4 separate regions of the Homo sapiens genome follow, and all the other regions are linked to region 3. Evidence: fine-mapped expression QTL. A gene starts in region 3. Each other region holds a variant in brackets. All regions are shown on one strand. Distances are between the middles of the regions. Region 1 overlaps LOC105373531 (a long non-coding RNA gene). Region 2 overlaps NCK2 (NCK adaptor protein 2). Region 3 holds the start of NCK2 (NCK adaptor protein 2). Region 4 has its middle 160 kb from the start of NCK2.

Region 1 (8,111 bases), 230 kb before region 3:
GTGGGGAGGAGAACTTGATTACAGGAGGAAAGGAGGTCAAAAACTGAAAGGCCAGATTGTAGAAGGATTCCATGCATGGAGAGAGTTGGCCAGGAGCTCAAATGTCCAGAAAAAGGGGGCTAATGACTTTAGGGTAGGAATTTGATGGCTGCAAAGAAAACTAATCATGAATTCTAGCAGTTCCAACTTCAAAGACGGAGGATTTTAGGGAGCACTGAGGGAGAATGGTCGCAAGTGGCGTTGAGGAGCCTGGAGGACCCCCGCCCACTTCCAGACCTGAGGGACTCATTTGATACAGACTGTTCTACAAGCCATAGGCACAATTAATGTCACAGTTCATTTTTATAGCTGCTTCATTTCCCATTTCATAGGTGTCTCATGATGCATTTCACTGTCTCCTTTTGAAGGTCACTGAGGTTGTTTCAGATTTCCTCTTGTCATTACAAGCAATCCTGAAATTACCATCTTTGTTAATAATTACAGTGCCCATTAAGGCCAGGCAAATGGGAAGCAGGAACCTGGGGCCTCCAAATTGCCCACTGCCCGCTAACAACTGGGCCGAGAAGGTGCAGCCTGCTTGCAGCCCCGTGCCCTGAGGGGGATGCCTTGCAATCCAGTTTAATTTCCCACATCCTCCTTTATCGGGGCTCACTTTCTTTAGAACCCTGCCCAGGGGTCTCTAGAGTGACTGCATGGGTTGTTCCTCTGTGGCATGATGATTTGTGCAGCATGAAGGCCGCCTGACAACCTAGGGAACTGAAAATATAGGACATCTGCCAACCTCCTGGTGGACACCTGAGAGGGAGTGGAGAGGACTGATTTCAGGCTCACAAGCACAGCATTTTATGAAGAGAAGGACAAATTCGCATGTCAGCATCTTGAGAGAAAACCCCAGACGTGGAAAGGAATCCATTTGAGTGGGAGGAGCCGTGGTTGCCAGCTAGGACCCGGGTTCTAGGGCTGCTTCTGCCACAATCTCTCCAGAGACCTTGGGCACACTCCCCACCCTTCTCAAAGCCCAAGTCCCCATTTCTAAGTTGGAAACTGGGATCCAGAGGACGGAGCACCATTGCGAGGGAGCCAGCCGGAGCTGGCTTTCTAGCCAGGTGCCCTGATTTTCCTCAGTAAAGAGCCTACTGGAAGTTGATTCCTGGGTTGTGAAATGGGAACTTTAGGTACCTCTTTCCCACCCAGGTCCACAAGCCCTTACCCAAAGCCTTAAGCATTTTCGGAATCGAGAACACTGCAGCTCTGGAAGAGTAGCATGCTGCATGTGCTATTTTACATGACACCCTGGTGGAGGGGTGGCTGGGGCAGCACGCATCACCAAACTCATGAATATGCTGCAGGGAAATGTCTGCATGTTCACTCCCAGTGGGATCAGTGAAAATGAGAAATAGTCTTACGTCAGGTCAGCTTGGGTTTTGCTGTCCAACGAGCCATGGAAAGACTTCTCCTTTTAGGTCCAGTTCTTCCCTCTGGCATAGAAAAGGCAATGGCATCGGACCTGGAGAGAAGGCATCCACAGAATGTGGGGGCCCTGGGCTCCTGCTCCTCTCAAAGCCAGGGCATGCCATGCCCTGCGCAAGAATGCGAATGTTGTGAAAATGTCACATCTAACACTTGTGCATGTTATCTTCCCCCTGAAGAAAGCACCTGTCCTCGGAATGAGCCCAGAACACCTCAGGGCGCCCTGTTCCCCCGCCTGCCCATGGGCTCCCTCCTGGGCTTCAGGAGGGGATAGGGTATCCATCTGCCTGTTGCCTCCACTCTGTTCCTGTGCATCAGCCTCCTGCATATCACAGTGACATGACCCTGCTCTCCTCTGAACCCAGGTGCAGCAAAGGGAGCCAGGAAGACCTTGATTCCTCACATGTCTCTTTTGCTCTTGGTCTGAGATGCACCCAGCAAGGGCAGTCAGAACTCAGGCTTCGATGACACCTCCTGGCATTTTGCTGTGAAAGGGGCTGCAGCTGAATTGCTTCTTGGCAAACCACAGTGCCTGCTTTTGGATTCCAATACCGGCTCCACCACCTGCAAGGCAGCTTCGATTCCCCCTGTCTGTAGCATGGGGGTGATAATAGCCAATACTCAGCATGGTTTCATCAGCTCATGCACACAAAATGAACAGCACAGATCTTGTCATGGTGGCCCCCCTACAAATCAATGTTGGTTTTCTTTCCCCTTTAAGCCTGAGTGTAAACAAACAGGAACCACATTCAATTAACTCACTTTCACCATTTGTTTAGAAGTCATCTACTTCCTTTCGTGCTATTTTTGAATGGTTTTAAAAAACTATAACCACTAGGGCAATGTAAACTTCTAAAGAGATACTTGGAGACTCTTTTGGAACTAATGTATCCCTCAGACACCTTAGTGAGGGAGACTTCCTCCTGGTAACGTTTTGCATTGATCTTCTCAGCATTTGCCTTAGAAAGCTTTCAAAAGTAGGTGTTATCATTTTTGTACAGGACACTAGCAAGTGAAAAAAAAGGACAGGTGCATTAGTTTCCTCTGCTGTCTGTGCACATTGAGTCAGCAGCTGAAGGTGGAGGTAACATGGGCTGCAGAGGGCCTACCTCGCTCTCTAGGGAAGCTCCTGTTGCTCCAGCTCATTCAAGTCCCCAGCTCAGTGGGCTTCTGCATGGTGGGGGCTCTGGCATCCTGACACTGAATGCCGAGAAGAGGTGGCCATCTCTCCAGAAACTTACGTAGAGAAAGGCTCTTGCTGGGGACAGAGGAGAAAGGGGGTGGTGTGGCCACCTAGGGCTCAGGGGTTGTAATGGGACTTCCAACTACATTCCCGCCACCCTCATATCCCATCACCCTGGATATGAGTGAACCTCACCTTTTATGTCACTACTTCTTGTTTTTGAGTCTTGGTTTTCCCATCTATAAAATAAAGATAATACCATCTACCTCAGAGGGTTCTTGCAAGTTAGAGAGCACACTCATGTAGTACCTGGCATGTAACTGTATCTGCTGTTATTATGGTGGTGTTGCTGACAACTAGAAGAGGGGAACCTTCAATTCAGAAGTCCAGAATGTTTATTTGGCAGGATCGATCCAACATAACTGCACAGGGATTTCCATGTGACTGATATTGAGGGTCACTTTCCAGCTTTCAGCATCAGCAGGATTTCAGGGGTTCCCAAGGTGGTCCTCATGAAGGGAGCTGGAGGCAGTGAAAGAGCGGAGTCACCAACATACTTGTCACAACCTTAATGAAGTCTTCATTAGAGGTGGCATACAATTTGTTCCCAAGTCTGCATGGATTTTTGCATGTGAATGAATATATATACTTGCTAGCCAAATGAAACAATAAACATGGAAATGCTTTGAACAGAACAACACCAACACATTCATATTCAGGAAAGATACTGTTTTTACGTGCAGACACACCAACCTATGAATAACCAGACTGGTGGTGCACTGTACTAGCAGATAGTTTGTGTCTTCCTGGTTCTTTCTGGTTAGGGACACTTCCTTTGTGTCCCTAGCACCTCTACGTGCTGCAAGTGGACATAACTGATCTTCCAAAGCTTGGCCTCCAGTTCTCATCAGCTAGACTTGCTGCGTGTATTTGTCAGAATAGGTGTGATCCTGCTCCAATTATCAATTAATTCCCCATGTCTCTGTGGGTTAGTACAACGAATGTTTATTTGTCATTCACTTCCAGCCTAATGCAGGGCAGAGGCCCCTTCTGTGCACTCTGGGTCCTGAGGCTCCCGCTTGGTCACCAGTGCTTCCCCCGCCTTCCATGGGGGACGCAGCGACCTGGCCCAGCTGTACCAGGCTGGCAAATGGAGGGCTGGCATGGTATTTGGTGAGCCCCCGAATCTCAGAGACCTGGCACTGGCAAAACTAGAGTGGCCTGCCTTTCTTCCAGCAACATCTTCTTGCTAAATGTGCATCCATATGTCCCACATTTCTAGTGAAGATGCAAGAGGGCCTGCCACTCCATCCTCCATGGGCTGGCTGGACTCACACAGTATTGCCCTGTGGTTTCCACGTGAAAGGCACACTCTGCGGGAGGTGCCAGACTCTCCTCTGGGGCGTGGTGGGAAAGAAGAATTGTATTTCTTTCTATGTCACATTCTCATTTCTGTTTTTGTAGGCTTTACAGTGTACACAAGACATGTGTGCCATAGTTCATTGATATACTTTCTAAAGAAATAGATACATATAATGGAACTACAGCTTCAGAAATTTTTAATGATAAAAATTGTGTTCAGAATGAAATGGAGATGGCTATTTTAGAGATCAAGGAGGTAACTTCTTGACTGGCTGAAATACCATATTTAGTTCCTTTCAATATTCTGTGATTATTCTGCTCTCATGACAGAGGTTTACTCAAATGTACGTAGTTTTTTTTTTTTTCACGAGGCCCTCAGGTCTTTGGGAATGGCATCACACTTCACACTAACCTCTTAGTGTTATGCTCACCTTTAAATTAAAAAAAAAAAAGTTGAAGTATTTATTTTCTCTCCACTATGTTGTAAAATTTTCCACAATGGCAAATGCAAGTCATATAGTCTTGCAGGGAAGGAGAAGCAAGACTGATGATCTCCACGCTGGAGAGCTGCCTGTCTCCCTTTTTCTTCTCTTTCTTTTTCATTTCTTGGGCAGTGGGTAGGGGCAGTGGAAGTGAGGAGACAGAGGGCAGTGTCTATACTCTCTGGGCCCCTAAGCAAATCCCATCGCTGTCCAAAAGATGGAGCTGTTGTCCTGCAGCCAGGGTGGAGCCCTGTGGACCCTGCCGGAGATCCTGTTCCTAAAGGGAAGGCCAAAAATCACTTGTTGCTCATACTGGGAGTCCCTGTGTATGATACCTTAAACAGAGAAAAAC[G/A]ATCCTTAAAGGTAGGAGGAAGCCAAAGATGGCAAGAGGACGAATGGCTTCCGCAGCGGATATTCAAATATTACAGTTCTGTCACTTGGGCAGAGGATGGTTCATGGGGTTATCATACTCTCATATTTATGCTAAATAGAATAATTAGACTACAGGTGGTTCTAGAGATAATCACTAACCAAACCACCTCAGCCCTGGAAATGCTCACGCAACAACAAAACCAAATGCACCTGACAATTTATCAAAACAGACTAGCACTAGACTACTTATTAGCAGAAGAAGGTGGGGTCTGTGGTAAGTTTAATGTCTCTAATTGCTGTTTTAACATAGATGATAATGGAAAAAGCAGTTCTAGAAATTGCTTCAAACATCAGAAAAGTAGCCCAAGTACCAACTCAAACCTGGAAGGGATGGGACCTGGCAAACCTTCTGGGAGGGTGGTTCTCTAATTTAGGAGGATTTAAAACATGGGTAGGGACAGTAATCTTCATCATTGGGCTCCTCCTGTTTCTCCTGTGTTATCCCATTGATAATTAAAACATTGATAATAATTAAATAATAGCCATTAAAACATTGATAATAGCCATTAAAACATTGATAATAGCCATTAAAACATTGATAATAAAAGCCATTAAAACTTGTTGAAACTACAGTTAACCACCAGACAATTCAGACGTTGCTTCTGCTACAGTGACACAGTGGATACCAACCCGTCTCTCAAGAATACCCAAAAAATTAAGGTTTTCTTTTTCCAAGGTGCCCACGCCACCCCCTATGTCACACCTGCAGTAGTTATTGAGAAAGTTGCCCCTTTTCCCTTTTTTCTATAACCAAATAGGAATGAAAGATTCTCTCTGGGGCCTGAAAGTTTGAAGGGATGAGTATCTCCTCCCTTCTCAGGCCCAGTCCAAAGGCACAAGTCCACGTGAGTCAGCAGCGTGTGTCAGCAAGATAGCAGAATCAGGAAGAGAGCCAGCCAGAAGATACCTACCCTGGCTGGAAGACACGTACCCCTGAAGATTGAGAAGGAGGCCATCCGGGTACTACGTAGCAATCACATCAGACTGGGACACTTCCTGTTTACAGAGGACTATAAAACCCCTGTCCCGTCCTCCTTGGGGCTGATGTCATTTTAGGCCTCAGCCCACCTGCACCCAGGGGCTCATTAAACAGCATGTTGTTACACACACACACACACACACACACACACACACACACACACACACACACACAAAATCACTTGTTGCTTCTTCTACCTGAACATTTCAGACATGGCTGCCCTGGGATCAGTGTACCATTATGAAAATCATGGCAATTTTCAATGCTGGTCTTCAAAAGCTGGTGAAGAGTGAGAGAATGTTTTCATTTTCTCCCCAAACACAGTCTAACAGTATCTTCTGCTTTAACTGAAATACAGGGTCTGAAGTTAGCAAAGTCACCCGTGCTGCAGGACACTGCCTGGCTGGTGGGCAGTCGGCCTGTTGTGATGTGTGGCCCGAACTTGACCTTGAAAGTGGGGTAATAATGATCAATCCATCACCCTGCTTGCCTTGAGGCTGCTTCAGATCTAACAAGGAAAGCTTTGGAAGTCCCTGGAGCCCATGGACATAGGAGGGCCCACTGGCTGTCCAGGTGGCCACTTGGGTTCCTCTCCATCAGCAGCCCCCCTTCTTAGCCTGAGCAGACACCCCCAGCTGCCTGGGGATGCCAACTGCCTGTACTACCACCAGTAATCTCTCCTGCCTCTATTCACACATTAAATGCACTTTTTCAAAGCCTACTCAGTCTCTGGTAACTGCAACATTTGATAAGTATTTGAATGAGGACTTTAGAAACCAGGTTCCAATTTAATTTAAAACTTTTTACTTTCAATTAATTATAATTTCTCTAAAATTGAAATTTCTAGCAAGACTCAGGGGAGGCCAGGTAGACCTATTTAAGCATAGGAAGTCACTTGGACACCCTTAAAACCAGTGGTTTGCAACCTTGGCTACATATTAGAACAACCTGGGAAGCTTTCAAAACTCCCGATGCCACAGTGGGGCACCCCTGGCCAGGGCTACAGTATGAGTTTCCAGGGCTCCTTCATCTGTAAAAATATATTGAGACATTTTATGACTGCTTTGGTATAAAGAAAAATATGTTAATTTTGCATATTAAAACCTCTTCTTTGACGTAAAAGTCTGTTTTCTTCATTTGATTTCAAGGGAAATGTAAACCTTTTGTGTGTTCTAGGCACCGTGCCTAGTGGGTAAGTCAACTCTGCAGAGAAGGAGTTTATGGGGTGAACCCAGCCTTCAGCATTTTCTTAAGCTCCCCCAGGCCATCCTATTGCAAAGTCAAGGTAGATAACCATTTTCAACCATCTAGGACAGAAGGCCTACTTGGCTGGACTGGTCCTGGTGATCCAAAATAGCCTGGAGAGGTCTGGTTCCTTTAGTTCTAATGGACCATGTCCAGCCAAGGTCGGCCTGACCTTGGCCCTGCCTGCCCCAGGCCCTGGAATTCTGGTGAAATCAAACATCCTTGACTCCCACCTTTGGGATTCTGACCTGTACCTGCTGCCAATGAATCCTCCATCTCAGAGCTGGAAAAACAGAAGGACCTTGTAGACCCATGTAATTTCTAGTTGCAGAAGCAGTCTTGTTACTGTAGCACCTGGTTCAAGGTCATGGAAATGGCCAAAGCTAGAACTGGGCCCAAGCCCTATCTCCACATCTCACGCTAAGCAATCCCTCAGGAATGAACCTCATCGCCCAAATGGGCAAAACCAGTATGCTCTCTTGAGGGTGTAACTTGCTTGGTCCTTCTCTCTGCCCAAGAGCAGGCCCAGTGGTGAAACCACAAGGGGCCAGTTGCTCTCTGGTTGGCATTAGCTATAGCTTGTCTGAGAATAGGGTGAATAAGAACCGAAGTGGAAGCCTCCAAGGCAACACCAGAAGGCTGCTTATTACACCATGTTGATATGTTGATGCCAGGCTCAGAGGGAGGAGGAGATGAATGTTAGTGATGGCCACAAGAGAGCTGCAGATGTTCTGAAAGATGGGGCACAGCTGCTTTAACTGCCTTCACACCCATGGAATCCCTTCCCTCCTCTCCACTTTCCCTCTCTCCCTGCTTCCTTCTTTCCCTCCTTCTTTCCTTTCTTCCTTCCCTGCATCAACAAACACCTGTTGAGAACCTATTTCTAAATGCGTGGGAGACTGCAGGAGGTGTCTAACAAGGAAGAAACACATCAAGGCTTCAGGGTCTATGGGGAGAA
Region 2 (8,111 bases), 51 kb before region 3:
TTTTTCTCATTGTTAAAAGCTAGACTTGTGGACAGATCTCTTCATTTTATAAAAAGAAAAAAGGAGAACACTGAAAGAAGAAAAAAAAATGACTCAGCTAACCCAGTTTCAAGAATATTCTGGATGTACAAACAAGAGGCCACAGTGAGGCTATCCGGGCTCCCAGGATAGGAGGGAGGCTTCCCTTGAAGTATGGTTTTGGCTAACTTATTTCTTACCTACACGTTACTCTTTCAAATACATTTTTTCAACAAAATCATCATATCAGAAGAAAACAAACATTACAACAAGCGAACATTAGCTCCTACTCCTTTCATAGAATATTAAATCCTAAAGATACTTATGTTCAAAAACACATCTTCTGGAAGTAGGGGATGATTTAATATTGAGTCTAAAATAGATGGATCAAAACCATAAATTAATAAAAATGTGGTTATAATTTTCTTCTCCTAGGAAATGAACCAAATTAGATCACTATAGCTAGTCAGCCCACAGTCAAACCTGACTTGGGACGATTAAACACTTAAAGATCTGCTGTTAGTGCCGGTAGCTTAAAAAAAGTTGCGAAGCCATAAATTAACAAGCAGAGTCCACACCAAATTGCTGAAAGGGTTTTTTTTCTGTGCCAAATTTACAAACTGGTTTTCTAGAAGCATCTTGTTTCTACAGGAGGACAAAAGCTGACAGGAGGCCACAACATCAGGTGTTTTGTTTTAACTGATCATGGTTACGAAAGACTTTGCATCAGCTCACTAAGCCTAAACAGGGAGGCTCCACACAGTCGCTGCAAATCCAGCCACTTCCTGCCTCACTGTTACCATACTCATCTCCAAAAGGCCACACAGGGACTCCAACCAGACCAGGCTCCACGCTCCATTCCAGCCATCCTGACCCTAAGACGCTGTCAAGAGAGCAGCCTCCCTCACATGGGTGCAGAGAATTTAAGAACCTCCCTTCTGCTAGCCCGCACAGCCTGGCAGCCTGCTGCTTGGCCATACTGGTTTTTTCCCCCTTAGAAAGACCTGGATACCATTTCTGCCCTTGCATTGCACAATATGGAACCGCATGGCTGGCAGTCTCTTCCGGTCCTAGAACTGTGAGTTCAACACACACCACCCAGAAATAGCACAAATTGGTTATTTCCTGTGCAGAAAAGAAAAATCAGCCAAGGCTTCAGAATCCCATTTTAAAGGTTCCCCTTAAAACACTAGTATAGGAGCTGAAATAGGGGTGTCCTTTCTAAGATCCTGAATTTGGCCAGACAGAAAGGATTAGAAATCAATGTCAACTTTTTTCTTGTGGGTGGGGGAGATGCTGAAAGAAAAGATGGTGGTACAAACTGTGAGTCAAAGGCCTAAAAAGGATAATAAATTTTTATGTCTTAGAGACATAAAGTTAAAATAAAAAAGGGACTGTGATGACTAAATCCATTTCTGCAAGACTATGCTTGTAACCATCATCACAGCAAACACTCACCCCAGCTAGGGGTACTGAACCAACCACAGATAAGTGCTGACACTTACAAGTAACATGCTTAATAAAATTTATTTTATCAAGACAACTCCTGAGAGGGCAGACTAACCTGTGAACTGTCACCACTAATGTCTATAAGTGTTCTAATTATATATATTTCCTTTCCATGGAATCAAATGTATACTGCATTTACCTGCGTCAAAGAGAAATGCTTAGTTATTTTTCCAATTCATTTAATTTATCTGATAGAGGTATGAGAAAGTACAAGGGAAAAAAAAGAAAGGGAATAAACATGATGCCGAGAGCTTCTGGAATAACACTAAACTACGGGATACTCTTCCTTGCCAAATGCAAAAGGAAGAAAAGCACCATCTCCAGCCTTCCAGCTCCCAGGCTCAGTCCAGACGCTGCCGATCTGAACACCTGCGTTCTGTGCCACACACTCATGTCCCCAGGCCCTCTCTGCAACCGGTGCCAATAATACCCCATGTGCTCCCTGCTCCAATGCCCCCATTCATCCATATTTACATACATGACCCTTAAAACAGCAAAACATTGAATTGTTCACTCCTCTTTTTAGTGGAAATTGAATATTTCTTAAGATCCTAAAGTGAGGCAACAGGAAGTACAGAGATAAGATAAACTGACACTAACCTCCAGCACTCTCCTGTGTGCCATCAATGACAAAACAGCCTTGCAAGAGCAGCAAAGCCACCACTCTGCCCACCAGCCATATATACTTACACACGCCTGCAAATGATTGTCTTTCAACCCTGAAGCCACAGTGCCCAGAGGGCGGCCAATACAGAGACTATCAACCTCAGTCACTTTCAACCCTGAAGTTGGTATTCCATGTGCATGCACCTAATAAAATTCTGTCTTCTTGGGACCTGTATCATAAAGCAGAATTAGCTTTCCAAAAAAAGTTTGACTGCACATATGATTTATACCAGAGCAAACTACAATAGAGCTTTCAAATGCTAAACTGTTTTGCTCTTTTTACAAGACTGGTAATAAAGAATATATCGTTGATGTGTTTCATTTTAAATGATTCATGTTTTCCTAAAGTCCTAGATGTAAATACCTAGTTTTACTGAAAAAGACTGGGGGGAGGGTGCGTGGAAGATGAGAGGAAGCGGCGAAGGAAGGAAGTTAGGGAGGAGGGAGAGGTCTAGAGGGAGGAATAATGACTCAAATACCTGGTTGAACATGAGCAGTGTTTCTCACCAGGGGCATACAGACGTTTCGGTAATTCTTTGTCGTGGAGCTGTCCCCTGCGTTGTAGGATGTTTAACAACAATCCACACCCTGCCTAAATTGGTGACAATCAACAACGCCTGCAGACACTGCCTGCTGAATATCCCTTGGGGAATGAAATCACCCTGGCTGAGAACCACTGACGGAGCATACATGTAAACTAAATAGACCAAGTTTGTTAAAGCAAAAATAAGACAGGAATATCCATGTATTTTCTAACTCTTTTGGAATATGACTCAAATATTTATGCAGCAGTTTTTATAATTACCCGTTTCAAAATAACTAAATAAACAGGCCCATTCAGTTTAACTCAATATCATGATTAAGTTACAATATACCATATAATTAGAAAACCACCTTTGACCTCTTGCTTGGGAAAAGTGTATAGAGTATGCTATTGCTTATTTGAGGAAAAAAAAAATTAAAAATATATCACTGTATACACATATGTGTTTGCTCACATTAAAAAGCAATAATTATTATTATACATTTGTCCAAACCCATGGAATGCACAACGCAAAGAGTGAACCCAAATATAAACCCTGGACTTTGGGTGATTGGTTTTTGTCAGTGCAGTTTCACCCACAGAAACAAATGCAGCACCCTGTCGGGGATGTTGCTAGTTCATGTGGGGGAACTGGATATATGAGAAAACTCTGTACCTTCTGCTCAGTTTTGCTGTGAAACTAAAACTGCTCTAAAAAATAAAACTTTTTTTAAAAAGCAAGAAATAAAAAGGGGAAAGAAAAAAACATCTTTAAAAAATGGTGATGGAAAAGAGTAGGGAAAAAAGAAGATAGAGAGAGTAGTCATACAAAATAATCATTCTCTGGACATAACCATCTTTGGCTGCGGAACCATGCGAACAGTTTAGATAATAAACTATTCGGGAGGCTGAGGCAGGAGAATCGCTTGAACCCAGGAGATGGAGGTTGCAGTGAGCCAAGACTGCACCACTGCACTCCAGCCTGGGTGACAGAGCAAGACTCCGTCTCAAAAATAAATAAATAAATAAATAAATAAATAAAATAATAAACTATTAACTTTTTTAAAGTCCAAAAATTAAAAGCAGAATGAAACAAACTAAACTATAAATTGAGTTGGTGGCTTAAGTACAGAGAGGAATTATCCTGAAAGACTTTGAAATACAATAATTGGACTGTATTTCCCCTGTGAGATAAACCCTAAGGACAAAAACATTTTCTGTTGTTTTCAGTACTTATATGGTTTGCAATTATATTGGTGGGGTTATTTTAAACATTTATATATATTGTATATAAATAAAACACACAAGCAAGCAAATAAGTCATTACGTAAACGATCCTAGGGACAAAGATTTTCAGCATAAAGGAAATATAAAATCAAAGGATTCAGCCAGGCATGGTGGCGCATG[C/T]CTGTAATCCTAGCACTTTGGGAGGCTGAGGCGGGCGGATCACTTGCGGTCAGGAGTTTGAGACCAGTCTGGCCAACATGGTGAAATTTTAGAAAATTCTTCTAAAAACACAAAAATTAGCCAGCGTGGTGGCAGGCGCCTGTAATCCCAGCTACTTGGGAGGCTGAAGCAGGAGAATCACTAGAACCTGGCAGGTGGAGGTTGCAGTGAGCCAAAATGGCGCCACTGCACTCCAGCCTGGGCGACAGAGCAAGATTCCGTCTCCAAAAAAAAAAAAAAAAAAAATCGAAAGATACAATATTTTAGAATCCTAATTTTGAGTTATAAGTATCAATGTGAATTTATAATAGATTATGTTTAAAAACAAACCACACCAAAGAAAAAAAGCTTTTATCCACTGAAAAGGCTCAGACACAATGACCAAACCAGAAGCAACCCATAAACAGTAGTGGTCCCCACAGTTCTTTGAAGGCACGCAGACCCCAGCTGGGGTAGGCACTGTCTAAAGGAGCCTGAAACCCCCACAGCTCCCTGCTTTCCGGTGTGATTATTAAGGACTACAGGCACGTGGCAAGAGAACACGAAGGCCACCTAAGGCAGCTTTCGCTGGCCAAGGCTGGGGCAGCCTGAGCAGCAATGAGGGTGTCAACTGCAGTGGGTAAAAATACACACAAAGTATCTTAAATCAGAGTTCCACAATTGCTACTCAAAACAAAGAAATAAACAAATTCATTGCTCACTTTGGTGGATACTGGGGAACCAGAACTATTTACTCTGAAAACTGCCAAATAAACTTGTTAGCCAGTGCAATGCCTACATGACCTAGGTGAATTTCTACCCTGCCTTAACTCTACTTGTCTCAGAAACAGGATGCCCGAGGTCAGAAGTTCCCTGCCTGACCAGACCAGCTGAAACCAGTGGGATCCAAGATGGCAGCTCACCTGACCTCTGAAGAACCTTTAACTTCATTATCATCTAATTTCCATACTAAATGACACTCCCACTAGGACCATGACAGTTGACAATCACCATGACAATGACAAGAAACCATAAGGGGACAAAAAAACAGGCAGCACTCTGGTTTCCAGAAGTTCTCCACCCATTCCCAGAAAATACATGAATATTCCTCTCCTGGCTTTTAATGCCCAATCCCTTCATTAAAGATGTCCTACATCTGTGGCTTCCCACCTCTCATGGACTGAGAAGCCAATTTGCGAGCCACACTGCCACTTCTCAATTCCACGGCCATTATATAAAGCCTGCACTGCTTGATGCTCACCTTCAGTTTCATGGGTTGGCTTCATGACACAGGACAGGAAAGAATCCCACCATTAGGGAAAAGCTGACTCGGTTGGTGAGAAAGGGAAAGACTCCCATCTAAACTGCACGTCGGGGTAATAGCTGACAAGTACTCTCCTCACCTGGCTAGCAAGTGCAGAAGGAGTGACTGAATCAGAAAATCATCACTTTGCAACCCCTGTGCATTACAGGTGGAGGCCACGGCCATCCAGGTTGCTCACATGGGCCTCGGCCTGATAGATGCACACACACCACCTAAGGGGCAGCCTTGCCAGAAAATCGCACCAGACTGGCTCTGGTTCTGATGTGCAGTTTCTAGGAAGTTCAGGGTCCTAGTCAGCACATTGCAGACTGTGGGAAGCCCAAATGACAAAAGACCGGGTTTTGCCAACAAATCAACTGGCATGGGGAAGGTGGAAAAAAAAAAACAAACGAGTTTGGACAAATCAATAGATCATTCAGCTGCATGTGTGGACCTTACGTGGATTCTGACTTTAACAACCAGTTGTAAATAACATTTTGAGACAGGTGGGAAAATTTGAACACTGACTGCATACTTGTTAAGTAGTTATTGTTATTGAAATTCCGTAATATTTACAGGACAGGAATTGATGTCTGGAATTCACTTCAGAAATAATCTGTTAGAGTCTATAGGGGCTTAGATAAAGGATTGGCCATTAATTGATAACTGCTGAAGCTGGGCAATTTATTCTGATTCTACCTTAGGACTACACTGAATATGATGATCTTGATAACTAAGAAATCACATCTTACAAAGAATGTCAAGATCATCATAAAATGTGATAGCTGAAAGGGCCATCAGAAACCCCCAAGCAGCAAACCATCTTCTACATATGAAGGTGCGCAAAGCACCTCCCTGCCTAGGGCATGGAGCGGGTCAGTGGTGAGGCTGAGCAGGAGGGGTCTCCAAAATCTCATCCATCTCTCCGGTCACCAAGGCAGGACTGGGGAAGCGTTCCCACGGCTCTGTGCAGAGCCCACAACACAATCAACAGCTTGCTTTTCAGAATCAACCGCTAACCCATTAAGGCTCTTCTTTTTGTTTCTGATTATGCTTAAAAAACACACACTCAAAACATCGAAAAAACATTTTTGGTAGCTTGACCTCTGCTCCTCCCAAAAAGAAAAATCAGTTCACTCGATAAAATCTTGGTAAGTTATTCGGGTGTTAAATATACAACAGATATGAAAATATTGAGTGGCCTATCAAAACACAACCACCACGAGCAGCTGCGTCATTTTTACATGGATCAAATTATAGACAAAACTCACAAGCTCTACGAAGAATGTATACCACTGATTTGCCTGAATTGTCAAGTAGAAAAACGAAACCCTGTATCAAGCACTTCAAGAGGTCACTATGATCAGATCTATTATGGAGTCAGTTCGAAATGCTCTTTGCTCTAGAGAAGTTTAAATGAACACAAGAGTGCTCTAAAAACATACAATAAACTACACTGTAATACACGGAACAAATAAGGACATCCCAAAGACAGTGAGCGAAGAGTAATCTGCAGCAGCACTCTGGCCGGTAAGCACGGCAACGGGGCGAGGGTGCACTCCCTACATTGTTGTTAGGCACTTTACACCGTATATCCTCCCATCGTGAAAGCCACCGAGCCTTCCACCACACCTGGTCACTCTTCTTCTGGAGTGAAGAGAAAAACGTGAAGGCACAGAGGTTACGTGGGAGAGGTAAAAAATGACCAGTTTCTTATCAGTGTGGCTGTAATTTACATCACTGCCTCAGGTTTCTCTAGATGAATCAACATTCTCTTAAGAATTACTAGAATTTAAATCCTGGAAGGAAGGATTAGAGATCTTCCGCTGTCACCTCTTCATTTAACAAATGAGAAAATGAGGGTGCAGAGTGGCTGAGCCCAGGGCCGCAGGGGCTTCCAAGTGGCTCCCACATACAGTACCTACCCTCTCAGCTGTGTTGCTCATGGGCATTTCCAGAGCCCCAAAGTTTCCTGAGTGGGAGCGGACAACCTCTAAGCAGTGCCTTCCAACTCTTGCAGGTTCTAACACGAGGAGCACTCCCCTAGCAGTGTGCATCTGTGATATAAAGGGGAGGGGTTGGACTCTGGCTGGCTCCTCACCAAGCCCTGCAGATGAGGACTCTCCTCCCTTGCCTCGGGCTGACCTGCCACACCCTTCCTTCTTCGGGCACAGCTCAAAGGCCGTTCCCTCCACCCAAGTCTTGCCTATGTGCATCAGCTGGCAGCGAGAGACCCACCTGGACAGCAGCCTTAAAGAAACAGGTACAGTCTCCTGAAGACAAGCTCCACCCATGTACACTTCTCCCCTAGGGGTGCCCAGAACAGAGGAAGGAGGCACTAAGGGCCTGGCCTGATGCCTTCACCTAAGATGAGGACAGGTGCGGGGGATGCAGTAAGATGTCACATCAAGTGATGACACTCCAGGCAGCAACACCTGGCACACTTCTCAAAGGGCCTAGGAAACCAGGGCTCCAGAGGTGGCTCCTCTCAGTGGGTGAGGTAACAAGAAATGGGGCAGGCGGGGGTGGCCGGGCTCCCAGGCTGCCTGCAGAGGGGTCTCCTCACAGGCACAGACTCTCCTGCTGCCCAGGCATAGAGTGCTACCCATCCTAGAAGTCAGGCTACTTGCCAGCCTATGGCATTGAGAAGCCCAGGGCTCAGCAACT
Region 3 (7,658 bases):
GCCTCGCAGCCTGGTCTATCCAGGGCAAACTAAGCTAGTGCAACTGATCAAGTAAAGGACTCCAGTGCATTCTGCGCCATTCCGGGAGTCTTAGGGTATTTTAAAAGGTTATCCAGTCTGTGCACATGCAAGGAAGATTTCCGGTGTATTTAATATGGATGGTAGTGCATTTCTCAAATATAGTACTGTGTACATAAGATCTGCTGTTTGTTGGAAAAGCTAAATAACCGAAAATGTAAATGACAAAGCCTGGGAATATGGCAGGGTCAAACAGAGCAAGGATGAAGAAGATTTAAGTATGCAGCGTGTCCTAAGCAAAACACAAAGCATGAAAACTGAGCACAGCCACCTGCAAGGCACCTTCAGCAAGCCCGACGGTTAACAGGGTCAGTTTCTCCACAAGTGGACAGAGGGGGTTATGCAGCAGCCAACTCTTCCTGATGGCAATTTGTGACCCAATTTCATCCAGTGTTTCATGACCAACCCCCCTGAATGTTTATGAAGCAGGAAAGAAGCTCAGAATCCAGGCGAGGCCTCCGGGACAGGAAGTGGGCCAGGCACCTCCACAGCTTCCTATGCCTAAAGTTCTCCATTTCAGCCTCAAGTAGCCGCCAGAAGACCACTAAGATTCCGCCACCTTCTCCAATCAAAACTACATCTAACCAACCTCCAGGGCAGAATATACTGAGGTAGGATTTTCCCTCGTGTTCACTTCTTCACAAGCAGGTTAACACTTGCTTCTCAGGAAACCCCTGTTCCAAACGTCAAAAAACCTCCATGTCTAGCCCAATCTCCAGGTGAAGTCAATTTCTTCTCCACGTGTCCGATGACTGCCATTCTCTTTACGTAAAACTCGCAAGGCTTGAATCCTGTTACTAATTCACCTGCTTATCTATGAAGCTTGCAAAGTGAATTGAGGGAGTGTTCACACGCACAGTTCCGTTTTGGTAAGTTAAAGCGGCCCAGGTTAATTTCATTTTCAGTCACTTTTGAGACTTGATAACTACATCTAAAACAGAGGCATGAAAAACACCCTGAATCACTTTCATTCCTACACAAAATCCCTTCCGAGAAGCGGGGACTGCGCCTGGGCCAGGAAGGGACTCCCCTACCTGTAGGTCCCAGCAAGCCACGCCCACCGGCCTCTCAGGGTTGTTTCTTTCTGGGTCGAGGGACGGAGCTGGCCCTTGCGATATTTTAGGCCCCCTCCTGCCCACACTGGGGCCTGCTCATCCCATTATGCAGATGCAAACTTGGCAGAAGCAGCCTTAAACCTGTTGGCAAAATAAACAAAGCCAAATAAAGAGGAATCTGCCAACCTGAATTGTGTGAAGTGGCCAAGGCCGACTCCACGCACGCTCGGCTTTGTCCCTGAAGCTGTTACAATACTAGTTTAAGTCAGGTGCCTGGGGTCCACCAGCCAATGACCCCTAGCATCCACCGCAGACCTTCACAGAGATCCCCATTGTCTACAAATTAAAGCGTTTTGCAAATTAAACCCCTCCACACAATGCCAAGCTAACTGTGCTCATAAGGCAGTTACCCTCCATGCCTTAAAACTCACATATCAAATTTTTCCAAAAGCACTCGGTGATTAAATCGCCCTGAAAAAAACCGAGAGAGCCGAGCGATTGTGAGAAACTTTGGTTCATTCAGGTGGCTGTTAGAGTCCTGTAAATCTGGGGCAGGGCGCAGAGCCTGAAGCCGGGCACAAAAGCTCCCTTCGCCGAAGCGAGGACCTCCTTTATGCAATGTGACAGCAGCTTTGTGCGCGAACATAAATAGTTGTAATAAACACGGTTAAGTTCTCCCGGCCGATCGCGGCCTCCCCCGTCCCTGCGCCGGGGCCCTGCGATCCGCGGCTATTCTTCCCCGGCACACGCGCCCTGGCGACCCTGGCCACCGCACGGTCCCACGCTAGCCCCGAGCTCCGTGCCGGCCGCCCGCCTGCAGGCCAGGCGCAGCCTGCGCACCCGGGGGTCTCCAGTCCCCGGGCCCCGCAGCCGGGCCCCCTGCCCTGATCCTCGCCCGCGCCCTTGGCTGGCGTCCCCGCCCCTGGGCCGGCCCCCGATGGTGGGGGTTAGGGATGGGAAGGCGGGCAGGAAGGTGCAGAGCCGGGAGGTGCCCGGCAGTCCGCGGTCGGGGGCGCCCAGGCCGCGGCAGGGCCGAGAGCACCGGAGGGGCGCGGAGGGGACCCGCTCTCCTGGCCCCTTCCCGGGCGCACCCCGGCCCGCGAGCCCCGCCGCGCTCCCAACTCCGCCCAACGGCCCCAAGTTTGTGGCCCCCGCCCCACGCCCGCCTAGCCGCGCTTACCTCGCCGTGGGCCGCCCGCGGAGCCGGAGGGCAGCGGCGCGGGTCCCGGGGCGGTGGCCGCGCTGCGCCCGCCCAGGCGCCGCTCTTTGTCTGCGCCGCTCCCTCCTCCCGCCGCCGGGCGGACGCTGCCGGCCCGGGCGGACCCTGCCGGCCCGGGCGCCGCGAGCCTCCCGGCCGCCAAGCCCTCCCCTCCGCCCGCCGCCCGCTCGGCCGCGCGGCTCCGGCCTGACGATCCCCGCGGCAGCGGCGGCGGCGGCGGCGGCGGCGGCGGCGACCCTCCCCCGGCGCGCAGCGCCCGCCTCCTCCGCGCTCTTCCTCCTCCTCCCGCGCTCCTCCCCGGCCGCGCCGTGACGCCGCCCAGGGGCCGGCCCAGGCCCGGGCGCGCGGGGCGGGGACCCGAGACCCACCTGGGGCGCCCCCCGTCGTCGCCAGGCTCCGCGCCCGGGTCCCGGTACGGGCGCCGGGATAGCGCGGGGCTGCGGGACGCTCCGCTCTGGAGGCGCAGCACGGGCCGGGCGCCGGGGGCAGGAAAGGGTCCCCACGCCCGAAATTGCGTGCGGGCGGTGGGGGGCAGGGTAGGTGGGTGGGGAGGAGAGTGAAAACACAGACGGCAACTTCCAGCCTGGGATGACTGCCGGGTGGGCTTTGCGTCCTCTTTTTTGTTTGTTCGTTGTTCTTATCACGAAGCTCTAGTTGCTGGGCAGCCGCCCCCCTCCCGGAAGCATTCCCACGGCACTCAGCTAAGCAGGCCTGTTGTCCATCAGAAAAGTGACTTAAATAAAAATGTCACTTCCTCCCTGTAATTGCTTGTGGGCATTTTTATTTATTTGCTTTGCATCTATTTACTTTCCCAACCAGACACATTTTTAGTCCATCATCCCTGTCCGAGGCACTTCCTAAAAGAAGAAGAAACTCGACCTCTGTTGCCTCCCAGGCATCCAGGCCAGCCCCAGCCTGTGGAATCCTGGTTGCACACCCGTGGGGGCAGAACCCGAAGAGGAGCTGCCCGAATGTGCCCCTAGAAGGAGTGTCGCTAATGATGGGACCGTTCAGCTCACCCAGCCTCGAGTTGTGGCTAGCCTATAAACAAACTTGGAAGATGAAAACCCAAGAGCAAGGGGAAAGACACAAGTTTCCCTTTCACAGACACATGCATCCGGATGTCTTTTCTCCTCCCCATATGGTTTCCCAAAGGAAATCCTAATATTCAAATGATTCTGATTTCCTGGCAGGATAGCCTGCATCCATGTTAATGAGATTCTTTCTTAGGCTCCTGGTCTCTGCTTACTATTAAGGCAATAATAATTTACCCAAGGTTACAAGGCTGTATTATTTGATTCACTCATCTCCTGCTTCCTTCCAGAAGGGAAGTACCCAAGGATAGGTAACTAGAGTCAGCGTAGCTTTGAAGTCAGACAGGTGAGTGTTTGACTGTTGACTTCCTGAACTGTGTAACGTTGCACAGGTGGTCCTCAGCCTTTCTAAAATCTGTCATATGGGGAGATAATATTTACTTACCTCCTATGTGAAGTACCCTGGCAGTAGGTAGCCCTCAATAGCTCAGTAAGTGGAAGGAAGCACAGTACACTGAGCAGGAATCAGGTACAAGCTCAGGGAATCAGAACAGCCTCATTTTTCCTTGTTTTGACCTTGTGAAAGAAGCTACTTCAGTTCATCCTTTTGTGCAAGTTTTGTGTTACTAATATCTAGCTTTACAATAAGAAAAGAAGAATTCTAGTCATCAGTCTGCCCAATTTTAGATTAATTTACTCAAAATAAGTATAGCAATATTGACCCAGTTTGTAGCTTGTTTGCTTTGTAAACTTTCACTGAATCGTGGTTCTTGCATGCCTCTTCTTTCTCTGATTCTTTAGAAGTCACCGATGTCATTCTCTATCTAAATCCAGTGGCCCTTTATCAATCTTTATCCTGTGGAGTTTTCTGAAATATGTGGCATTTCTGCTATTTCCTGAAACACCATCATCTTTTCATTCATCAAACACAGCCAGTTCTGATTCTCTTACCTTTCTGACCTGCCCATCTGCCTCCTCTAGAGAGGTTGTTGTCTTCCCACCCTGTAAAAGTGATATCCCCAAGGCAGATGGTGGCCCTTTGTTTTTATTCTGATACGCACCTTTTTTTTTTAAAGAGAGAGTTGATTGTTTTTTGTACACTCCCTGTCTAAACCTTCATTGATTAACCCCCAGACCTGTAGCCTTAGAGAGCTCCCCTGCTAATCTGCAGAGCTCCCCAGCTAATCTGCACCCCCTAAACATGGCGCAGCATCTCTTCTAGGTCACCATGTTCAAAATGAAACTCATCTGCTCCCCAGACCAGCTCCTCCTCCCATGGTTTCAGGCCTGGCCAAGAGTCTACCAGGCACCTCAGCTCCTGGGAGAAATCTCATTGTTATCTTGGCTTTTCCTTCCCTCTCTCCGAGTTCTCCCCAAGAAAAGCTGGGAGAGCGCTGAATGACACCAAGACCCCTTGCAGACTACCCCCATGGTTCTGAGTCCTGGTGATTCTTAAACATCTTTTCCACTGCACCTTTCTTTCCATTTCCATCACTGGCATCCTAACTTATACATCATTCTAGCAATAGTTATAATGTACCTTGATTGAATTCTTGACATATATCATCTCTAATCCACACACAATAGTATTATACCCATTTTACAGATGAAATCACTTGAACAGTGGATCAAAGAACTGGGGTCAGAGCATGTACCTGACTCCAAAACTCTTGTTCAATTCCCCACAACTACTGCCTTCCAACTGGTCTCCCATTACTTCCTTCTTAAATCCCTCAGACTCACACTGGACATCAATGTCATCCTAACCTTCCTGTAAATTGTTTCCATTTGTCCCTGGTTGTGCTCAAGAACTTCTCATGGCTCCCCATTGCCCACCACAGTCTCCTCAAAAGTTATCTGATGACTGAAGACTGAGCATTTTCCCCCAGAGAGGCTGGGGTATTTAGCCCTTAGAGGCCTGTGTTCGTTTCCTGGGGCTGCCTTAACAAATGACCCCAAACTAGGTGACAAAACAGAGGTTATTTTCTCAAAGTTCTGGAGTTCAGAAGTCTGATATCAAGACACCAGCCTCTCTCCAAAGTCTGTAGAGAACAATCCTTCCCTGCCTCTTCCAGCTTCTGGTGGCTGCAGACATTCCTTGGCTTGTGGCAGTGTCACTCCCACCTCTGCCTCTCTGTCTTCACACAACCTGGTTCCCTGTGTCCTTTCCCTTCTCTCTTTTTGTAAAGACAAGTATCATTGAATTTAGGGCTCACTCTAATCCAGCATGATGTCATCTCGACATCCTTATCTTACAACATCTGCAAAGACCTTTTTTCCAAATAAGGTCGCGTTCTCGGCTTCCAGGTGAACATATCTTTTGGGGCCAACATCCAACCCACTGCAAGGCTTAACATGGGGGAGACATTTCTTTGAAGCTTATGTTTTATCTAAAAATATATAGGTTTTTCTGCATTCTACTCCATTAATGTGTCCACATCTGTTTTACTGTCTTCAATCACAAAGTATTGAAAGCATAAAAAACATGGAGTGGAAGGAGGTGCAGTAAACTTTTGCCTAAAATCACATCAGCATTACATCTTATGATCTCTCTTCCAAAGGCCTCTCCAACTTAGCCCTGCCATACAATCTCCTTTTTACCTCTGTCCAGTATAAGCTGTTTGCTTCAGTCACTCAGCTCTGCCCACAGTGCCACATTGAGTCACACTAGTTTCAGCCTTCTGTGGTGTGAAGGCAGCTAGGAATTCCCTGTCCCCGTCCTTCTCTTTCAGAGCTCCATTCAAGGCCTTCTCTAACCCCTCCTTAGACTCACGGAAAACACAAAGCAAGGTTGAGGGTGTTGTCCAAGTCATACGTCAGAGGCTCAAAGCCTACCTTGGAGCCTGTGCCTTGGGGTCATTTCACCTCTCTGAGCCTCAGATATTAATAGTGCTCTTGCAAAGCGTTGTGAGAATTAAAGGAGATAATATAAACATGTCTCAACTGTGTGTTCAGCACATGGTAAACACTCATGTCTCCTTTCTCATGACCTTCTCTTGTAACCCTCAATTCAATTAAGCATATCTGGTGTAGTTCTATTTGTAAGGCATTATAAGATCCACTTCAGGATTCATTCATTTGGTGCAGACACCAAAGAACACCTGGATGTGCAAAGAGCAGATATAAGATTGCATTATTCAGAGAGGTTATAACGCAAACTGGAGTGGAGTGAAAGGATGGGAAAATAGTTTAGGAGAAATGGAGAGGAAAGACCCAAAAGGAAGGATGAAACCAGCATACAAATAACTATAATATAAAACTAAATATGAACAGTACCAAAGAAAATATGTCTAGAGAATCAGGAGAAGCTTTAGGCTTTATGAAAGGTGGTGGCATTGGCAATGACCTTGAGAGATTACATGGTGGGAAGCTGCCTTTAATTTGGCTGCCCCCCTCTCTAGCCCCTTCCTGGTTTTAGAGAAGCCTGTCTGAACCCTGGAGGGAGGCAGAGTAGGCACCTTGGTCCCTCCATTCCCAGAAGCCCTGTGAGAGTGAACAGCCTGGGATTGGCCAATGGAACCCTCCCACTCAAGACTGTGAAACTGGAGAGGGTGAAAAGGACAAGAGAGGGTGAGATTCAATTTGCCATGGCTGAAATAGTCCCAGCACATCCCTCCCACAGGAATTAGCCAGCTCCATTCTCACCCCTTCTGCTCTCCAGTTCCCCTGTGAGCTACTTGATATTCTTCTAGTAAATTCTCCTATTCTGCTTAAGGTACCCAGAGGCACTTCCTCTTTTTGGAACCCAAACCCCTGAATAATGCAAATGGTAGGATTTTGAAAGGTGGAGATAGACAGGGAGAAAATTCCCAGCGGCAGGAGTTCAGAACTCTGAGGCAGACAGGGGGACGTGGGAGGACCCTGTAGGGACAGAGAATGGCCCACTTGCCTAAATGGAGCAGAGGCTGCACAGAGCGGATCGCGAGGCCAAGAAGGAAAGCAGTTAAGTGTGGACATCATCTGGGCTCAGCCCAGGAACACTCATTTGGTGCATGCACGGAAGGACAGCTGGAGACAGGAAGAGCAGACAAAAGTTCGCATTTCCAAGAGAGTTCATAACCCCAACTGGGGTGGAATGAGTAGATGGGAAAGTGTTTTAGGAGAAATGGAAGGGGAGGCTCAAAATGAATTGGCAGCTGCTTGGATGTGGGGGACCAAAGAGAAAGAGAATGGGGCACAAATATAACCTGAGGCTTTGGATGTGGGAAACTGCAAAGACAACGGTGCCGAGATCAGAAACAGAAAAGTGGGGAGGACTGGCTTGTGAGGGAT
Region 4 (6,409 bases), 160 kb before region 3:
GTTACAGACGTGAGATTAAGTTCTAATGGAATGACACTTCCTCTGCACTTTATAAAAGTGTCACAATTGTGATACCCATTAGAATGGCTACCCTGAAAAAAAAAAACAACAACAGAAAATAAGTGTTGACAAGGATGTGGAGAAATTGGAACGCTTATCCACTGTTAGTAGGAAGTAAAATGGTACAGCTGCTATGGAAAACAGTTTGGCAGCTCCTTAAAAATTTAAAAATAACATTATCATATGATCCAGCAATTCCACTTACGGCTGCATACCTCAAAGAACTGAAAGCAGGAACTCAAACAGATATTTGCACACCCACGTTCACAGCAGCATTATTGGCAGTAGCTGGAAAGGTGGAAGCCACACAAATGTCCACTGAAAGATGAATAAACAAAATGTGCTCTATCCGTAGAATGGAATATTATTCAACCTGAAATAGGAAGGAAATTCTGACACATGCTACAATATGGATGACCTTTGAGAACATTATGCTAAGTGAAGCAAGCCTGTTGCAGAAAAGTTAAACACTGTATGATTCCACTTCTATGAGGTACCTAGAATAGTCAAATTCGTAGAAAAAGTAGAATGATAGTTGCCAGGGGCTGGGGGGCTGCAGGGCTGGGGATGAGTTGTTGTTGTTTAATGGGGACAGAGTTTCTGTTTGTGAAAATGAAGAAGTTCTGGAGATGGATGGTGATGATGGTTGTACAACAGTGTGGATGTATTTACCACCACTGAGCTGTGTACAGTTAAAAGTAGTTATGATGGCAAACTTTATGGTATGCATATTTTCCTACAATCTTAAAAAGTATTACGGACCACATCTGGTACCCAACTTAAAGGATTTTTCAAAAGTTCTGTGGTAGATTTAGACAGATAAGAAATAACAGCACTAGCTAATGACATCCTGGGCTTGAAGATCCAACTCAGTGGAGCTCATTCTCAGATGCCATATGGTCTTCAGCAATGGTGGAGACACAGGAGGCCCAGTGGTCTGTCCTCTCCAAGGCTCGCATGTGCAAACTCAAGGTAAATGAAAGTACCACTGAAACCTAGAATATACTTTTTAGCTAATGCTTAAGTTGGCTTCATTAAACGTTGGCTTAATTAAGGGGTGGGTAAGACCTTTCTAGTGACTTAAAGTGGGTTTGGCTTACCTCCAATTAAGCTAGAGAGAAGCCTGCTACCTTATTTTATAGGTTCTCTTTTCCTGTTGTTCATCAGTCAACAAATGTCTGTTAAGCACCTACCATGTACAGAGAGTACATATTAATAACTTTGGGAAAAGTTTAAGTTTTTTGTGAACCATGAAATTGAGAATATTCAATCATTTTGATAAAAAATGGCAATATCATATCAAGTCGAATTGTTGATAGTCTGATGGAGGAGAAAAGACACAGAGAGATACAAGGAAAGCTGGCCAGCGACAATCAAGTGTAGCCCTGGTGCCATATAAATACTGCTGGTCTCCCAGGAGAAGGAGCAGCATGAGAAAGGAGGAGCTGGGACATCAGGGCTTGAAGGCAGAGCAAGTCCCCCATATCACAAAAGTGCCTGGGGAAGAGCATGAACCCGACAGGGAAAGGTGAATGCCTGTGCCAAGCCTCTTTGTGGAATTTCGAAAACACAGTTTCTAATTAGGAGATGTGAGAAACTGAGGTTGGAAGGGAAGTTGAAGCACATTAGCAGTCTGCGGCTTGGGTTGTCTGCTAGTTTGGATCTCATCCTCTATCCCCATGGGACAGGAGGGAACCAGTGAGCCTTCCTTGATGGCAGTGAAGTGATGAGAGTACAGCAGAGGTTCAGAAAGGAAAGACTTCAGAAGAAAGAAATTATAGGATGGCTGTGCCATTAAAAATGACTATTTAGTCTGGCAGAAAGCAGTAAGAAAACAGACCAATTGCCTGGAGGTTGAGAATAGGAAATTTTATGCACTGGGGACCAAGCGGGTGGGTAAGGACCTTATGAAGGAAAAAGGTGGTGCTGGAGTTGGAGGCAGATGTGTGGGGCAGCCGCTAAATGAGAAAGGCAGGAATCAGTGACACAAGTGAGCCTTTGACCCAAGTCACAAGGATAGTCATGGCATCTGACTTGGCTTGACTAAATCCCAAAAGATGATAGAATACTATGTAGAATTTTGCAAGAAAAGAATGTGATGCATGAACCATGTCCAGCTAAGCAAGCGTTTGTTTTCAAGGGCAATATAAAGGCATTTTCAGATATTAAAGGACTCAGAGTACACTGTTCTCTTTTTCTCAGGTTGATTCATTCAGTGCTTTTAAACTAATTTATTGAGCACCTGCTAGATGCCAAGCACTGGTCTATTTAGGCTACATCAGTTAACAAAACAAATATCGCTGCCTGTATGGAACTTCATGCTAGCTGTGTGTGTGTTGACAGAGAGAATAATAACCCTAGTAAGTAAATTATTCATGTTAGAAGTTGATAAGTACTACAGGGGAAAGACGAAAGAGAAGAGGGCAAGTTTCATTATTAATGGGATAGTCATGGTAGACTTCACTAAGAAGGGAACCAAAACATTTTTTCTAGATTACCTAGATTAGGAATTCAGTATTTTGCAACACCAATCTGTTCATTGACTTCATTACATTCTGAAATTTGCAAATCATGTTAACAAGCACTTTTGGTGAAAATATTGACTAAAGAGAAAATTATTTTCTTTTTTTTTTTTGAGATGGAGTTTCTCTCTTGTTGCCCAGGCTGGAGTGCAATGGTGCAATCTGGGCTCACTGTGACCTCCACCTTCTGGGTTCAAGAGATTCTGCAAATTGCTGGGATTACAGGTGTGAGCCACTATACCCTGCCAGAAAATTATTTTCTAATACCACCGGGAAACCAAACAAATTCCAGAGAAGAAATCTTTCTCCTATTTTCCTACCACCAGTATAACCAATATGAATATCTACTTTTACTCAACTTAAATTTGGTTTCCA[T/C]GCAATTTAAAAATATTCAACTTTTTTCTCTATATTTTTCATCCAGATAATAAAAAAGATGTATAAAAAAGTGAAGAAAATTAAGATTCCTCCAAATGATTTATTTCTAAATGGATTTGTAACCAGTATCACTTTCCCTACCTCAAAAAAAGCACAACCTGAAAGATTTTCCACCACAGATAATCCAAGGCTACCCCACAGTATATGGGTGGGCAGTTCCCAAAGACAAATTCCAAATGCACCTTTAACAAAGACAGCACCTGTTATTCTCCAACACCTCAAGCCACCACTGTCATAGAACTAACGGGATATGAATGCTATTTGGACGTCTGCAGTTTTTATTTTTTTATTTTTTGAGATGGAGTCTTGCTCTTTCGCCCAAGCTGGAGTGCAGTGATGTGATCTCAGCTCACTGCAACCTCCACCTCCCAGGTTCAAGCGATTCTCCAGCCTCAGCCTCCTGAGTAGCTGGGATTACAGGTGTGCGCCACCACGCCCCACTGATTTTTGTATTTTTAGTAGAGGTGGGGTTTTGCCATGTTGGCCAGGCTGGTCTCGAACTCCTGGCCTCAAGTGATCCACCTACCTTGGCCTCCCAAAGTGCTGGGATTACAGGCGTGAGCCACCGTGCCTGGCCGGATATTTGCATTCTGATTGGGCAAGTATTTTAGTTTCATTACCTCAATGTCAAGCCTCCCTCATCTTTTTATTCTCTGCTCTTCACTGCACAGGACAGGACCTCCCTGGCACTTGTGGAAATGAATATTACTGACATCCCATTCCCTGTGGGACTGGATGGAGTTCTAGGTTAAAATCATTTGAACACAGTGTCTCTATGGTACTACATGTAGATGTAGTCTGAAATCTTGTATAAGTCACTACTAGCTTCATTTAGATAATAATTTAGCACATTAACCTATTTTTTTCCTTTTCATTAAGCCCATTTAACCAGCTATACAAATGTGCTAAGTATTTCACATTACGCAGTTTACATTGTCTAAATGTACAACAACGCCTAACAACTCTAATATCCCCCTCAAATGGCTGTATTAAAAAATGCAGCTCTGCACCAGTGTTTTGGAGGTACAGAGTTCTCAGCACTGGCTGGAGGTCAAGCCGCTGGTGAGGAGCACCCAGGCTCAGATGCAGGGTGTGCACCGATGGAGGCGCACTCCACCACCATGAGCACAGGCCTTTGCTTTACACAAGTCCACTGACTTTCTGGACTAGGGGCTTCCTTGGGCCATGACCTAATCTTGGAAGGCCACATGCCCCCACCAACCAGCAGATGCTTGAGGACAAGGCCCTGGTGCCCTGGTTCCTGACCAAATGCTGGCCACTGGAGAGGAGCTCAGGGATTTTTTGAAAGCTGTCAAAGGCGAGCTTTCACACCAGCTGTCAGGCTTGTCTATCTTCAATAGTCATTTAGTGTCAGGTAGCAGGATCTGCCAAAGATAGAACAGCACGAGTCTTTCCAGTGAGTTTGTATGGCTAGTAGCTGTGCTGTGGGAAACCTGATGGAGGTTAAGGCAAGTAAGACAGTTAACAAAAGAGAAAAATAATCACTCTGGGCCTTAAAGATCAGACATTTCTTTCTATATCAGTAGTCCCCAACCTGGATTGGCTTTGTGGAAGACAACTTTTCCACAAACCTGTGTGTGTGTGTGTGTGTGTGTGTGTGTGTGTGACGGTTTTGGGATGAAACTGTTCCATCTCAGATCATCAGGCATTAGTTACATTCTCATAACGAGTGCACAACCTAGGTCCCTTGCATGCACAGTTCACAATAGGGTTTGCACTCCTATGAGAATCTAATGCTGCCACGGATCTGACAGGAGGCGGAGCTCAGGGAGTAATGCTCACTCGCTTGCCTGCTGCTCACTTCCTGCTGTGAAGCCTGGGTCCTAACAGGCCATGGACCAGTAGTGGTCCATGGTCCAGGGGTTAGGGACCCCTATTCTATATGGCCCAAGGAGAAGGACATGCTGTAGATGGCATGCATTGAGAGCAACGTGTTTCCCTAGAGGTTTCAAGTAGACTAGACTAGAACCCAAAGTGCAGGTCCAAACCACCTCATTGGAATCTTCCAGCAGCATGTTAAAAATGCAGATAGAGATTTTTTGGGGCAAGAAGGCCAACTAGATGCAGCCAGGTGGAACAGCTGCCACTGAGGGACCAAGACCACTGGCACAGTCCTAACAGATCTTCAGAGGGAAGGCTGTGAGAGTACATGGAGGGAAGATACAGAAGCTGAGCTGAATGGGGAGGAAGTTGGGAACCCTGAATGGAAGGGCTACTGCACACCAGGACTCACTCCTGGCCCCCAGTGACTCTGGGGTAATGGGTGAATTGAACTGACAAGGAGCAACCTGCTCTCACCACGGGCACCTGGAATCCTGGCAGGAGACCCTTCGACCACTGTGGACACTCGAGTTTGCAGGGAGAGCTGCTTAGAGAAGTGGTAGTGGGGCATGCCAACTGATGCAGAGCCCAGAGGGTTTGGTGTGGGAGCATCTGCAGTGGAGCATGGTCAGGGATGCCCAGCCTCCTAGGCTCGACTTGTTCTCATAGGAGACTTTAGCCCTCTGCGAACTGTCAGACCTGAACTCTGCAGAGCTGTCTTGCCCATCAGACAGGGCCAGTCTGGACCTCAGTGCCCTTGGTCTGCTGGCCTCTCCTGAGGCCCCAGCCTGGCTGAGTCCACTTGCAGGAAAGCCTCAGCTACCTTGGGGGCCCACATCCTGCACTGGTGCACCATGGCTGACTAATGGAGAATTCCAGTGAGGTGTCCCCCACGGCCATGCAGCAACCTGCTTGCTTCCTCCCCCAACAGCAGCTTCCCCAAGGCCCATAGCCACCCCCAACATTGCTTTGCCAGAGTGTGTGTGCCAGCAGGTTTTGCCTTCCCTGCCCTGTCAGTAAGCATGTCTGCATGCATCCAACACTGCCACAGGAGTGAATCTTCTTCAACTAGCTAGAGAGGCCAACATTCAAATTCAGGAAATGCAGAGAACCCCAGTAAGATACTTCAAAATAAGATCAATCCCACAACACGTAATCATCAGATTTTCCAAGGTTGAAATGCAAGAAAGAATGCTAAAGTCAGCTAGAGGGAGAGGGAAAGTCACCTACAAAGGGAATCCCATCAGGCTAACAGCAGACCTCTCAGTAGAAACTCTACAAGCTAGAAGAGATTGGGGGCCTATATTCAACGTTCCTCAAGACACATAATCTTCAACCAAGAATTTCATATCCAGCCAAATTAAGCTTCATAAGAGAAGGGGAAATAAGATCCTTTTCAGATAAGCAAATGCTGAGGGAGTTTGTTACCACTGGGCCCGCCTTACAAGAGATCTTGAAAGGAGCACTAAATATGAAAAAGAAAGACTGTTACCAGTCAACACAAAAATATACTGACGTACACAGAACAGTGACTCTATAAAGCAACCACA

The links. PIP is the estimated chance that this variant, and not a neighbour inherited with it, causes the effect.
Region 1: its variant is the best candidate, but not a certain one, in a credible set for the expression of NCK2 in whole blood (TOPMed, PIP 0.54).
Region 2: its variant is the best candidate, but not a certain one, in a credible set for the expression of NCK2 in whole blood (TOPMed, PIP 0.70).
Region 4: its variant is the best candidate, but not a certain one, in a credible set for the expression of NCK2 in whole blood (INTERVAL, PIP 0.67).

The regions. Positions count from the first base shown.
Region 1 is chr2:105,966,355-105,974,465 of GRCh38, reverse strand. LOC105373531 (a long non-coding RNA gene) reads right to left here. Exons shown (of 3, transcript XR_923144.3): 3 at 3,275-4,774. Among named protein-coding and RNA genes, the nearest start is that of ECRG4, 95 kb to the left of the region's middle. The variant G/A (reference allele first, on the strand shown) is at 4,850.
Region 2 is chr2:105,790,343-105,798,453 of GRCh38, reverse strand. The region is part of intron 1 of NCK2 (NCK adaptor protein 2); the gene reads right to left. Among named protein-coding and RNA genes, the nearest start is that of NCK2, 49 kb to the right of the region's middle. RefSeq lists enhancers at 7,961-8,010, 8,091-8,111. The variant C/T (reference allele first, on the strand shown) is at 4,124.
Region 3 is chr2:105,739,794-105,747,451 of GRCh38, reverse strand. NCK2 (NCK adaptor protein 2) reads right to left here and starts at 2,540. Exons shown (of 5, transcript NM_003581.5): 1 at 2,314-2,540. RefSeq lists enhancers at 1,230-1,279, 1,380-1,449 and silencers at 1,820-2,209, 2,320-2,379, 2,570-2,889.
Region 4 is chr2:105,901,182-105,907,590 of GRCh38, reverse strand. No RefSeq gene overlaps it. Among named protein-coding and RNA genes, the nearest start is that of NCK2, 160 kb to the right of the region's middle. The variant T/C (reference allele first, on the strand shown) is at 2,958.